Homo sapiens: one gene and its partner. The protein of the gene in region 2 interacts with the protein of the main gene of each other region in a biochemical or structural test. Each region holds a gene or a part of one and is shown on either strand. Other genes may lie near its edges.

Region 1 (7,222 bases), on a different chromosome or scaffold from region 2:
CAAGTAGCTAGGACCACAGGCATAGACCACCATACTCAGCTAGTTTTTTGTTTGTTTGTTTGTTTTTGATAGAGACGGGGTTTCACCATGTTGCCCAGGCTGGTCTCAACTCCTGAGCTCAGGTGATCTGCCCGCCTTAGCCTCCCAAAGTGCTGGGATTACAGGCCTGAGCCACCGCACGCCAGCCTGCATTTTTTCCAAATGTTCTAATCTTTCTCATTTTATTATTTTTTTTTTTTTAATTTTTTTTTTGACACAAGACCTCACTCTGTCACCCAGCCTGGAGTGCAGTGGCCTGATCACAGCTTACTGCAGCCTTGAACTCCCAGGCTCAAGAGATCCTCCCACCCCAGCCTCTCAAGTAGATGGGACTACAGGCATATGCCACCACACCCAGCTAATTTTTGTATTCTTTTGTAGAGATGGAGTTTGCCCATATTGCCCAGGCTGATCTCCAACTCCTGGGCTCAAGTGATCCTCCCGCTTCAGCCTCCCAAGGTGCTGGGATTACAGGCATGAGCCACCACACCCAGCCCAGCTGTTAATCTTATTGATGATTAATTATACGTGATGGGTCACTTGTCAGTTGCTGCTTTCAAGGTTCTCTTTTTATCGTTCAATAATTTGATTATGATATGTCTGGTGATGGATATCTTTGAGTTTATCCTATTTGAAGATTATTGAGCTTCTTGGCTCTAGATTGATGGTTTTTTTCATCAAATTTTGGGAGTTTTCAGCCATTCTTTCTTCATATATTCTTTTTTACCCCTTTCTTTTTGTCCTCTCCTTCTGGGATTCCCATTATTTGATGATGTCTCACAGGTCTCTGAAGTTCTGTTCACTTATCTTCGTGCTTTTTTCTTTCTGTTCCTTAGACTTGATCATCTCAACTGATCTATACTCACGTTCACCGATCTTTTCTTCTGCCTACTCAAATCTGTTGTTGAACCCTCTATTCCTCTATTGAATTTTTTCTTTTTTTTTTTTTTTGAGACGGAGTCTCGCTCTGTCGCCCAAGCTGGAGTGCAGTGGCGCGATCTCGGCTCACCGCAACCTCCACTTCCCGAGTTCAAGTGATTATCCTGCCTCAGCCTCCTGAGTAGCTGGTACTACAGGCCCATACCACCATGCCTGATTAATTTTGTGTATTTTTAGTAGAGACAGGGTTTCACCATGTTAGCCAGGATGGCCTCGATCTCCTGACCTCGTGATCTGTCCACCTCGGCCTCCCAAAGTGCTGGGATTACAGGCATGAGCCACCACGCCTGGCCCATTTGAATTTTTTCATTTTAGTTACTGTACTTTTCAAGTCCCAAGTTTCTGTTTAGTTCTTTTAAAATAATTTCTGCTTTTAGGCCAGGCATGGTGGCTCACACCTGTAATCCCAGCACTTTGGGAGGCCAAAGTGGGAGGTTCACTTGAGGTCAGGAGTTCAAGACTAGCCTGGCCAACACTCCATCTCAAAAAAAAAGACAGTATTCTTTAGCATTAGTTCCGCTAATGATTGGACAAAGATTTCCTTAGCCTCCAAAAACCAATAATCTCCTAGCCTTTGCTGAGGCATGGTGGGCCATGCTTTCGACATTCAGCCAGGCAATTGACAACTCTGCCTTCGCCACTACTTCTCCCAGGAAGGCACACATCCTCAAGGTCAGCCCAATGTAAGAAGACTGGGTTCTCATCTCTGGTCTTTCTTGAGCCTGCATATACTCCTGGGCATGCACACAACCCTATGCATGCATGTGACCTTCTAGATTTCCAAGAATATTTTGGAGTTTTTCAAAGCCTTCTCATTCCCCAGCTTTATCTTTTAAACTGTTTCATTAGCCTATTATTGGCCTCAACTGTTATTCATTGCTTAGGCAGCTGCCTAGTTAAACAATTGCATGCAATTGTGTTTCACAAATGCCCCTGGGGAAATAATTTTGACGATGTATGAGCTCTAAGTTAGGTCAAATACAGACAACATTGCAAGTAGGGGCTTCCAGGGAACCATAAGACGAATCAAATAATTCTGACTTTCTGGGAGTGAGGCTTTTATGGAGTTTCATCCTCTTCTGCCCCGTTTGGTGTATGCCAGGCTGCTAGTTTCCACTGAGAATGCTGGCAGTTAATATTCAAGGCTACCATGGAGCTGGAATGGGGGAATGGAACTAGGCCAATTAAAAATGTCACAAAGTATAAAAATTAGCCGGGCGTGGTGGCGGGCGCCTGTAATCCTAGCTACTCGGGAGGCTGAGGCAGGAGAATTGCTTGAACCTGGGAGGCAGAGGTTGCAGTGAACTGAGATCGTGCCACTGCATTCCAGCCTGGGCGACAGTGAGACTCTGTCTCAAGAAAACAAAAATAAAAATAAATTTTAAAAAAGTCATAAAGTTCACTGCTCTTACTAAGATTCAGCTGCTTTTCTTGAATAAACACTTTACAGATTTTTGTTGTTGTTGTGGAGACAGAGTCTCACTCTGTCACCCAGGCTGGAGAGCAATGGCACGACCTCAGCTCACTGCAACCTCTGCCTTCGAGGTTCAAGCGATTAGCTCCTGCCTCAGCCTCCTGAGTAGCTGGGATTACAGGCACTTGCCACCACGACTGGCTAATTTTGTATTTTTAGTAGAGATAGGGTTTCACCATGTTAGTCAGCCTGACCTCAGGTGATCCCCCCACCCTGGCCTCCCAAAGTGCTGGGATTACAGGCGTGAGCCACCACGACTGGCCAAAAAAACTATTTTAAAATCTAAAGTGGGTTGACTAAAACCAAATTAACCATTTTAATCGGAAAACATCTCATGTATCTTATTACCAAACCAGTGCCTTGACGATGGGATTTTCAGTGTCATTTGCCAAATTCGCAGGCACCGCAGTGGGGAGCCACTGCTCCCACAGCAGAGGCAATACACGGCCTAGCCTTGGGGTTGAGAAGTTCTGGGGACGGTGTCGGGGGCCCTGGGCCACCATTTTTGCATGGAGCCAGCCCTGCGCTGCGAGGGCGTGGCATCGGAGAGACCGTGGCCTCGTGGGCAGCATCGGCGGCCCCTGGGGACACGCGCTGGCTCAGTCCCCACCTCCGCCAGGGAAGCGGTCTGATGATACCCATTTCGCAGATGGGCAAATCCACAAGCCAAGTCGTGCCGCCCAGAAGAGGCAGAACCGGGATTTGAACCTAGGTTTCTCATTCTGCACCTGAAGAAATAAATGTCTGGTCCATGCGTGTGTTGGGGGGCGACGGGGACTTTTCTTCAACCAAGCCCGGTGTGCCCCCTCTCATTTTCTAGCACGTTCTTCTCCCCCATCTTTGCACTTATCTCAGACTCCCCTCACACACCTATCCTGGGTGCCATCCTTTCCCTCAGCCCACCGCCCATGTAGTCAGCCTCCTAAGCGCCCCTTCCACCTGTCCCCTCATCTCCCCACTGCTCTGCCTCGGTCCAGCCCTGGCCTTGGCAGGGGTCCCTGCCTGGGCCTCCCCACGGGCTCCCGGCCTCACAGAGGAGCAGCCACCTGTGCAAGGTCACACAGCAGGAGAGACACTTCTGGGATTCAGGACCCACCTGTGGGTCCGAAGTGGATTTTTTGTTTGTTTGGTTTTGGAGACAGGGCCTGGCTCTGTCACTCAAGCTGGAGTGCAATGGCACGATCTTGGCTCACTGCAACCTCTGTCCCCAGGTTCAGCCATCCTCCCACCTCAGCCTCCCAAGTAGCTGGGACCACAGGCATGAGCCTGGCTAATTATTTTTGTATTTTTTATAGAAACGGGGTTTCACTATGTCACCCAGTCTGGTCTCAAACTACTGAGCTCAAGCGATCCGCCTACCTCAGTTTCCCAAAGTGCTGGGATTACAGGCCTGAGCTACCACGCCCCGCCCTGATTTGGATCTTGCTCCTATTCCCAGGAAGGCCCATGTCCTAGCAAGAGAGACACCAGGTGGTGCGCACGCCCCTCCACCTCCAACTCCTCCACCGCCAACAAAGCCTGGGACCCAGAGGCCATGGGTCCTACACAATCTGGTATTTCAGGTCTATAAATCATGGGGGTGGCAGGGAGCCCATCAAAGCTGTTCATCCAGCCTGGTCTGCCGGCTCAGCCTCTTGTCCACCCCACTGCCGTGCCCCAAAACACACACACACACACACACACCCTCCCTCCTTCCTGGGAGACTAGCCCAAGGAGGGGCCTGGGCGTATATAGGGAGCCACGGTGGGTGGGGCTGGCCAGAGAGGCTGCAGACAGAGAAGGTGAGGAGGGGGCCCTGGGAGTCTGGGTATGGCATGAGGGGTCTGAGGCTCAGGGAGGGGCAGTGCCAAGTTCAGGCCAGTGACTGCCCCACCGGAGCCCGGGTGTCCTCTTGTGCAAAATGCCTCCCCACCAGGGCTGTGGGTACATCAGTACCAGCCTGGGCCCCGCAGAGAGCTGGAGCAACCCCTCGAAGCCAGGGTGTGGCTCAGAGATGGGGGGTCCGGCTGGCCCTTTACGCTCCTGGCCTCATCCCTGCTCATGTGTCCCAGGATGATGGCGTCTGCGGCAGCAGCGGAGGCCGAGAAGGGATCTCCAGTTGTGGTGGGCCTGCTAGTTGTGGGCAATATCATTATTCTGGTGAGACTCGCCCCAGTGCTGGGAGCCGAGTGGTTGTGTGGTGGGGAGGGGACAGTCCTGAGCTCGGGGTGGGGGATGAGGGTCCAGAACTGTCTCTCGGGCAGACTCAGTGGTCAGCACAGCCTGGGTTGAAATCCCAGCTCTGCCTCTCCCCAGCTCTGTGACCTTAGCAAGCGACTGTCCCTCTCTGTGCCTTCTTTCCTCATCTATAGACTGTGTCCTCATTGTGTGGGCTGTTGTCATGTGGATTAATCCATGTGTGGCCCTCAGCTCAGAGAAAGTGCCCGACCAATGCTGGCTATCACCATCAGCATCACTATGGATATAAAGTGACAGCCTGGTGCACAGGAGGCCACAAGAAGGAAAAACAACAGTGTCTTTCAATTAACATTGGGTTTTGGTTTTGTGTTTTTTGTTTTGTTTTGTTTTGTTTTGTTTTGTTTTGTTTTGTTTTTGAGACGGAGTCTCACTCTGTTGCCCAGGCTGGAGTGCAGTGGCTGATCTCAGCTAACTGCAACCTCTAACTCCCGGGCTCAAGTGATTCTCCTGCCTCAGCCTCCAGAATAGCTGGGATTACAGGCGCACACCACCACGCCCGGCTAATTTTTTTTTTTTCAGACAGATTCTCCCTTTGTCACCCAGGCTGAAGTGCAGTGGCGAGATCTCGGCTCACTGCATCCTCCACCTCCTGGGCTCCAGCAATTCTCCTGCCTCAGCTTCCCGAGCAGCTGGGATTACAGGCACATGCTACCACACCCGGCTACTTTTTGTATTTTTAGAAGAGATGGGGTTTCACCATGTTGGCCAGGCTGGTCTTGAACTCCTGACCTGAGGTGATCTGCCCACCTCAGCCTCCCAAAGTGTTGGGATTACAGGTGTAAGCCACCGCGACTGGCCGTGTGTTTGTTTTAGAGACAGGGTCTCACTCTGTTGACCAGGCTGCAGTGCAGTGGTGTGATGCTTGCTCACTGCAGCCTCCAACTCCTGGGCTCAACTGATCCTCCTGCCTCAGCCTCCCAAGTAGCTGGGACTACAGGTGCACATCACCACATCTAGCTAATTTTTTTATTTTTTGTAGAGACGGGGTCTCACTATTGCCCAGGCTAGTCTCAAACTCCTGGGCTCAAGCAATCCTCCCGCCTCGGCCTCCCACAATGCTGGGACTGCAGGTGTGAGCCACCTTGCCTGGCCCATTTGTAATGTTTATGGCCATGGCCATGTTCCCCTCCTCGGGGAATAACAGCACTGTCAAGGGAGGGCAGATGGACCAAGCATCTCCTCTGTGCCAGTCCACTGCTCCAGCCTTTCCACGTGGCATCCCCTTTTATCCCCGAAGAAACTGGCAGCTGGGGCGTGGGGGTCGGTTGTCTGGCTGGGCTGTCTCTTCTCTCCTGGCCTCTGCTCACCCTCATCGCTGCTCATGGAAGGCGAGGTCTTTGCCCACTTTACTGAGAGGGCAGTGGAGGCTCCAAATGGGGAGGGAACTTGCTCGTGGAGATGCCTGGTGCCAGGGCTGCTGGCCCCGAGCAGACCTTCCTAACCCACCGCTCTGTCCAGCTGTCAGGCCTGTCCCTGTTTGCTGAGACCATATGGGTGACAGCCGACCAGTACCGTGTATACCCACTGATGGGAGTCTCAGGCAAGGATGACGTCTTCGCTGGTGCCTGGATTGCCATCTTCTGCGGCTTCTCCTTCTTCATGGTAGCCAGTTTTGGTGTGGGTGCCGCACTCTGCCGCCGCCGGTCCATGGTCCTCACGGTGAGACTCCAGGGGTTGGGGGATGGGGACACTGAAAACGGAGTTCAGCATCACTGAGTCATAGTAGCAGGTGCAGCCCCAGCCACTAGTGTGAGTTCCCCATGGTGTCACACTCAGGGATCCCAGGCATCATCTCATTCAGTCTTCCCACAGCCCAATAACCCAGGCTTGAGTAGCAGAGCTGGGATTTTTTCTTTTTTTTTTTTTTGGTAAAGATGGGGGTCTCACTATGTTGCCCAGGCTGGTCTCAAACTCCTGGCTCAAATGATTCTCCTGCCTCAGCCTCCCAAAGTGCTGGGATTACAGGCTTGAGCCCCTCTACCTGCACCCAGTGCAGGGCTAGAATTTGAACCCCTGCTAGCTGCTTTCCAGAGTCCATGCTCATGAACTCTGCCAATAATAGCACAGCTACCATTTAATAATGGTTTACTACAAGCCACGAGCTGTTCTAAATGGTTTACTGGATTAGTTCATTTATTCCTCATAGTCCACCAAGAGATACTGTCATCATCATGACCCTGTTTGATGAAGATTGAAACTGAGGCTCAGAGAAGTGAAGTCACTTATCCAGGGTCACACATTGAGACAATGGCAGAGCCAGTTTCAACCTGAGCAGATCGGCTCTTGAGGCTGTGCTCTTAATCTCTGCCCACAAGAATAACCCATACTTCCCAAGTGTCTCTCATGCACCTGACACTAGGGTAAGCAGTTTAGAAAATGAGCTTCGTGGCCAGGCGCAGTGGCTCATGCCTGTAATCCCAGCACGTGGGGAGGCTGAGGCGGACAGATCATTTGAGGTCGGGAGTCCAAGACCAGACTGGCCAACATGGCGAAATCCCATCTCTAAAAAAAAAAAAAAAAAAAAAATTAGCC
Region 2 (6,957 bases):
ACAGGAAAAAGCTGTGGTGCTGAAAAAGAAGACAGCAAGAGTTTTGCAGAGATTGACTTCCAAGGAACATAGAGTCCCATGGAGAGGGTAGGAGGGGAAGTTGCTCCCCTCACTCCTGTGGCAGACTATGGACTGCTGAACTTGTTGGAGAAACCCTCTGCACCTGTGAGCCCAGGCATTGCTGTCAGTGGCAATTTGGGAACTTCTTTAGGGCAGAGCATTGGGTGGCCAGCTCATGCAGGCACACTCGCTCTCCCCCAAAACCTGAGTTGAAGTGGCAGGTGTCATACTGGTTATGCACCCATTGTGGGTCTGTTCTTCCCAAGGAATCCCAGCCCTTGTGTTTCTGCATCACTAGATCCTCCATGAACATTCCCCAGAACCCACTTAGACTGCAGCAACCACAGGGGACGGGTGGGACCCTGGGGAGCTATGGAATTCCTAGAAGTCTAGCTCTTAGGAGAAGGGAGAGTGTCTGTGCCAACGTACTCCTTTGGATAAAAGAAACCAGTTCATTTGCTCTCCTCTGCCTAAGAGCTCCCCACGTGTGAGAAGAGGCTGGCTGTGCCCCTCCCAGCAGAGACACAGGCATGGTTCTGGGGTCTGAAGGGGAGGAGTGTGGTTCTGCACCAGTAGGCAGGTGACACTGGTGCCTGGGAATAAACATGGAAAGGGAGTCTTCTCCTACCCCCTCACTCAATGCTCCAGATAGACCGTTGGCTGTCCCTACTGGGAGCTGGCACAAGTGCACCTGGGGATGGCTTTTGAGGGCTCCTGGGGGCAGCTGCACTCCCATTGATGGGGTGCCTGCTGGCCAAGCCTTGCACGAAGGGCAGAGTTTATCCTCCTCCCCATATGGAGCAGCAGCATTCCCATAGCAGAATGCAGATGAATATCAGAGCTGCTGAGGGAAGAGGTTCTATCCCAAGGCCATTTTGGTGGTAGCCACAGGACGGGTGTTTTCTGCAGACCTCCATCACACTGCAGCCTGGAGATGAAGGACAATGTCTATCTGAACTGAAGGTCACAAGCTCCGGGACAAGGGTGTTTTAGGAAAGTGGATTGCCTTCCTGCCTTCCCAGGATGTGGAGCTGGTATACTCCTTCCCACTCTGGTGGAGACATCAGTGCCTTTCACCATGAGCTCCCATTTCCACTCCCATCAAGGCAGTTGCTTCTGCTCATAATTGGGGTTTCCCAGGGTGAGCTTGGTCGTTTAGTGCCCCTCAGTTTTGTGTCCCCCTCCAAAGCTTTGTGTTCCCTTCAGGGAATCAGGCCATCCACAGACCAGCCAACTGCCTGTGACAACAGAGATCCCCTCCCAGAAAACAAAGACCAAGTACCCATCAGCTTATGCCACAGCCAGCTTTTATTGGGATGCAGATTGAATTGCACAACCAAATAAAAAACAGGCTGACAGAGGGTATAGTGCTGGGGAATGAGATAAACTTTCAGAGACTTCCACATTCCCAGCCCCTCAGAAGGTAGTATTCCTGCTCATATGCCCAATACATTGCTACTACAATCAGCATAATAAAGCCACCACACAAAAGCTATCTATACAGCATAATAAAGCCACCACACAAAAGCTATCTATGACCAAGGAACTCATACAGAGCTGTGACCCACGGAAGGCACCCAAAATTGAAGCCAAATGATCACACACAACATACAGTCACACCTTCAAAGGGGGAAAAAATCCCATTCAAATGAGAGTAAGTTCAAAAGTAAGAAGTAACGGGTTCTCTAGATGAGAAGAAATCAGCATAAGCACTCTGGAAGTACGAAAAACCAGTATTTTGACATGCCCAAAGGATCACACCAGCTCCCTAGCAATGGATCCTAACCAATATAAAAATTTTGAAATAACAAATAAAGAATTTAAGATATGAGTTGTAAGGAAGCTCAATGAGATACAAGAGAAAGTTGAAAACTAACATAAGGAAATCAGAAAAATAATTCAGGATATTAATGAAAAATTTACAAAAGAGATAGAGATTAAAAAACAAAAACCAAATAGAACTTCTAGAAATAAAAATTTATTGAAGGAACTATAAAATATAGTTGAAACTTTTAGCAAAAGACTAGACCAAGCAGAAGAAATAATTTCAGAGCCTGAAGGCCAGTCATTTGAATTAACCTAGTCAGACAGAAATACAGAAAAAATAAATTTTTAAAAATGAACAAAGACTTTGAAAAATATAGAATTACATAAAGTTACCAAATATACAATATATAGACATTCCTGAGGGAGAAGAAAAAAAATTAAAAGCTTGGAAAACCTATTTGAGGGAATAATTCAGGAAAACTTCCCTGGTCTTGCTAGAGAATTAGACATCCAGATAGGAGATGCTCAGAGAACACCTGGAAGATGCTTTACAAGAGAAACCTCATAAAGGCATATCGTCATCAGACTATCCAAAGTCAATGTGAAGGAAAACATCCTAAAAGCAGCAAGAGAGAAATGTCTAATCTATACAGGAAAACCCAACAGACTAACAATGGACTTCTTAGCAGAAACCTTACAAGCCAGAAGAGATTGGGGTCTTATGTTTAATCTACTTAAACAAAAATCCTGCCAGCCAAGAATTTTGTATCCTGCTAAACTAAGCTGCATAAATGAAGGAGAAATAAAGTTTTTCCCATACAACAAATGCAAAGGGAATTTGTCACCACAAGACCAGCACTACAAGAAATGCTTAAAGTTCTAAACATGGAAATGAATGGACAATACTCCTCATCATAAAAGCACATTAAAGTGAAAAACTCACAGATTATATAAAGCAATTACATAATTGAGACTAAAAAGCAACTGGGTAACAATTATCATGACAGGAACAAAACATCACATATCAATATTAACCTTGATAATAAATGGAGTAAATGTTCCACTTAAAAGATACAGATTGGTGCTGGGTATGATGGCTTACACTTGTAATCTCAGAACTTCGGTAGGCTGAGGCAGGAGAATTGCTTGAGACCAGGAGTTTGAGACCAGCGTGGGCAACAGAGTGAGACCCCATCTCTGTAAAAAATTAAAAAGAGAAATTAGCCAGGTGTGATCATGCTCACCTGTAAAGAGGCTGAGGCAGGACAATCACTTGAGCCCAGGAGTTTGAGGCTGCAGTGAGCTATAAATGCATTATGGCACTCTAGCCTGGGTGACAGAGTGAGACTGTCTCAAAAAAAAAAAAAATACATACAGACTAAAAGATTGGATAAAAGTAGCATCAGCTCAGGGGTCCTAACTAGTTACAAGAACAGTGCACAAGACAAACACCAGCTAAGATGGCAGGGAGAACAAGCCTGAACAAGGCAAGGCAGAGGTCTGCTAAGGGAAATCCATCCCACAAAAGACAAGCAAGGCAGGGGCTCTCTGAGGCCTAGAGCAGCATGCAAAAGAGCAACTCTTTCCAGGTGGCAGCTCCCTAGCTGCTGCCCCCACATGCTGCTGCCTCTGCAGCCACTCTACCTGCCCCACCCCTGCCCAGGTATTCCAAGCAGCTCTCAGCTCTTTCCCAATATCTGGGCAGTGCTGTTGAGACAAAGGAAGAGGAGAAGTGGACACAGCAGGTCTTGGCTCTTAAGATCTGCAGTTGTGAGTTCCTTTTGCAATCGCTGTAGGTCATTGTGCAACCTGCTGGTCTCTGGACTCCTGATTTCTAGACATCTATAAAATACAGACACTGATGATGCCACTTAATTCACAGAGCTGCAGTGAGAAAGGTGCAGATGAGTTCAAGGCCTGATAGTGTTCTGCAAACTATAGTGATGGATGTGCATAGTATTGTGAATATCAGTGGCAGGTTTCCAGAACGCAGGTGGGGATAAGAGTGAGTGAGTCAATAAAGAAGAAAATTGCCCCACTTCTTGAAGGGAGTTTTTGGGGCTGGGCAGCTCAGGGTACAGGGCAGGCATAAATAGTGAGTGCCTGCCAAGCAAAGGCTAGTTTGCTTGGAGCTCCTGGGGCCTAACAAAAAGAAACCTGTAAGTGTCTCTGTTCTTGCCTTCTTTTTATTTTCTCCACATCCTATAAATATCCCTCTGCCGACCTGGGCAATTCAACCTATTGGTGTGGAGGGTCTGTGTAGCTGTTCTGGTCTAGGAGGCATGGGCGCAGGAGGTGGGGAGCACAGGAGGTCTTATGGTGCTCTTCTGCCCCTTATTCAGTGGCCTCAGCCCAGGGGAGGATTTGCTTTCTGAGCTGGGGGTGCACAGGGTGGAAGAGTGGGTGTGACACTATCTAGACCTGGGATGCCACAGTGTGGAAGCTTCAGGTGGAAAAATGCAATGCTAATTTATCTCTAGGCTCTTTTCTGCACTGATTTCTTCAGAAAGGACAGTGGAAGAGAGACAAACCCAGGCACTCACAGGCTGGGGTTCTAAACCCATCCTGGTGCCAACAGCCTGTGGAAAAGCAGGGCAAGCCTGTTTTTCTCATAGCTTCAGGTCTTTACTTTAAAAAATATACTTACTGGAGTAGGTCTCTGATTTTCCAATCCATGTTCAGAGGAGATGGCCTTTTCAATGAAATTGTACTCTGAAAGCTTAGCATAAACTGGGCACTGCAGGGGTTGAGGGGGACCACAACTCTGCCCACTCCATCTGCTGCCCCAGCTAAGATGCCTCATCTGAATCCTGGGCCTGAAAACCCGGGTCTGCCCTCTCCAAGTGTCCTTCAAGCCACAGTGGCTGCTGGTGCCTTCTGTGCCATCTTGAGCCTGTAGACAGAATGCCTATTGCCTTTCATTCTTCCCCAGAATCAGACACAGGGCCTGAGGGGTGAGGGAGCTGCGGGGCACAGAACAATGCCCTTGCTCTGGCCTGGGTCTGGCCCTTGCTGCTCATGATTGAGCCTCTGCCAGAACAGGTGTAACAAGGTAGCCGCTGCTGGCAGTGAGCTCACCCAGGTGTTTCTAGAGACTACCAGGATACCCAAGGAAGTGGTGATTTCAAAATTGAAAGAGGCTAGTGAGAAATAGGGGTCATCCACAGCCCAGAATCACCAGCAGTCAAAGAAGAAGGCACTCCTCTGGGCAGGAAGCCCCCCACTTGCCACCACCCCAGTTGGCCTGGTGACCCCTTTCTTTGCACAAGTCCCTCTGGCTTTGTTCCTAGCCTCTGCGAATCTGATCAGCTCTTTTCACTCTCATAACTTTACGGTTTCTCATTGAGAGAAAAGATACCCAAAACAGTTAATGTCCCAGGTCCTGCTCTTATCCTGGTCTCAGTTCCTGACCATCTTAGATAGTAAATGGGTGCCCTGTTGGGTAGTTGCTCTTGCTTACCCACAACACTAGCTTTCTGCCTGACTGAGCCTACCTGGCATGTCCTCTTTCCATATAAGACTTCTTTTTTTTTCTGAGATGGAGTCTCACTCTCTTGCCCAGGCTGGAGTGCAGTGGCACGATCTCGGCTCACTGCACCCTCCACCTCCCGGGTTCAAGAGATTCTCCTGCCTCAGCCTCCCGAGTAGCTGGGATTACAGCACGCACCACCACATCTGGCTAATTTTTTATACTTTTAGTAGAGATGGGGTTTTGCCATGTTGGCCAGGCTGGTCTCGAACTCCTGACTTCAAGTGATCTGCCCGCCTCGGCCTCCCAAAGTGCTGGGGTTACAGGCATGAGCGACCGTGCCCAGACTCCACATACTTCTTTTCCAAACCCTCTCAGGTCTTAGAAGAACTCTAGGTGTCTCAGGATTTCTCCTACTGCTAGTTTAGTGTCTCTGAAAACTTTCACCTGGGTTCCCTCTGGGACTTTTCTCTAGAGACAGCACCTGCTCGAGGAATGGCAAATTGCCAGGCAAATGTGCACCACACTCCCAGCCTGCGCTCAGGAAGGACATTACTAAGCACTCAGGACTCTGGCTGCATTTTCAGACCAGCACTATCAGCACCAGTGCTAGTCCATGCAAGGCAGCAAGAGAGAAGAAACAGGCTTGCCTTGTCTGAGCTAAGCCAGTTGCCTCAGTGGTACAGACAGGGAGATGGTCTAGGGAGTGGGCGGGGGGTGTCCTGCCCAGAGGCACTCAATGAACCCTTCTTGATGTGACAGATGGCCCCAGTGAGGAATGCTACATCCTAGCCACTGTGCCAAACTTAGTGCCCAAGGGAAGGCACAAGAAGGGAAGACATGAGCACCTGGGAATGGGGGATGCTGCTGTCAACCTATGTCAGAGTTCCAGCTGGGTAACTCATGCTCTCCATCCAGACCTTGTGCCCTCCTTGTCCTTAAACTGCTTTTGGATTCCTGCTGCTCTAGGCCCCATAGCAGAGGACAGAAGGAGGGAATGGGGGCTTCTTGTCACCTCTAGAAGCTGAGCCAAGCCCTAAACCATGTCCATGAAGCATAAGCATGTCTTTTCTCTTTCTGTTCACCTCTCCAGGCCATGCTGCTCTTCCTCCTCTCTGCACTGGTCCTGCTCACACAGCCCCTGGGCTACCTGGAAGCAGAAATGAAGACCTACTCCCACAGAACAATGCCCAGTGCTTGCACCCTGGTCATGTGTAGCTCAGTGGAGAGTGGCCTGCCTGGTCGCGATGGACGGGATGGGAGAGAGGGCCCTCGGGGCGAGAAGGGGGACCCAGGTAGGGTGGGGCCCTGGGCTTATCCTGCTGGGGAGGAATGGTCATTGGAACTGTAACTAGCCCAGCAACTCTGGGTACTTTGTTATGGAAGTCTGGAGACGTGTTTCTTCCTCCCAAGAAGGCGAGTTCCACACTGCTCCACCAGCTGGCAAACAAGTGGCTGTGCTGAGCCCCCATGTGCCTCCTCCAGCACCCAACTGCCCTAGCTCCTCCTCTAGGATCCCCGGATCCTTCCTATCCCAAGAGCAAGCAAACAGTGGTAAATTACTGATATCTGGGGCCTTCTAGAGCCCTGTGCCAGCAGTTAGCAGTTGTTCATTCCAATTAAATGATGCCTGTGCAGGGCATTAAATATTTTAAATATTT

What was found. Proteins that work in one complex are often made in the same cells at the same time.
Region 1: the proteins of SFTPD (region 2) and UPK1A form a complex in vitro, tested with the Homo sapiens proteins (one study listed by IntAct).

Annotation. Positions count from the first base shown.
Region 1 is NC_000019.10:35,662,306-35,669,527, forward strand, and holds the start of UPK1A (uroplakin-1a), read left to right. Parts: upstream 1-4,211; 5' UTR 4,212-4,233; intron 4,234-4,503; 5' UTR 4,504-4,507; coding exon 4,508-4,591; intron 4,592-5,642; exon of another isoform or gene 5,643-6,148; coding exon 6,149-6,349; exon of another isoform or gene 6,350-6,380; intron 6,381-7,222. UniProt on the Homo sapiens protein: Component of the asymmetric unit membrane (AUM); a highly specialized biomembrane elaborated by terminally differentiated urothelial cells.
Region 2 is NC_000010.11:79,946,095-79,953,051, reverse strand, and holds the start of SFTPD (pulmonary surfactant-associated protein D precursor), read left to right. Parts: upstream 1-3,946; 5' UTR 3,947-3,986; intron 3,987-6,389; 5' UTR 6,390-6,392; coding exon 6,393-6,591; intron 6,592-6,957.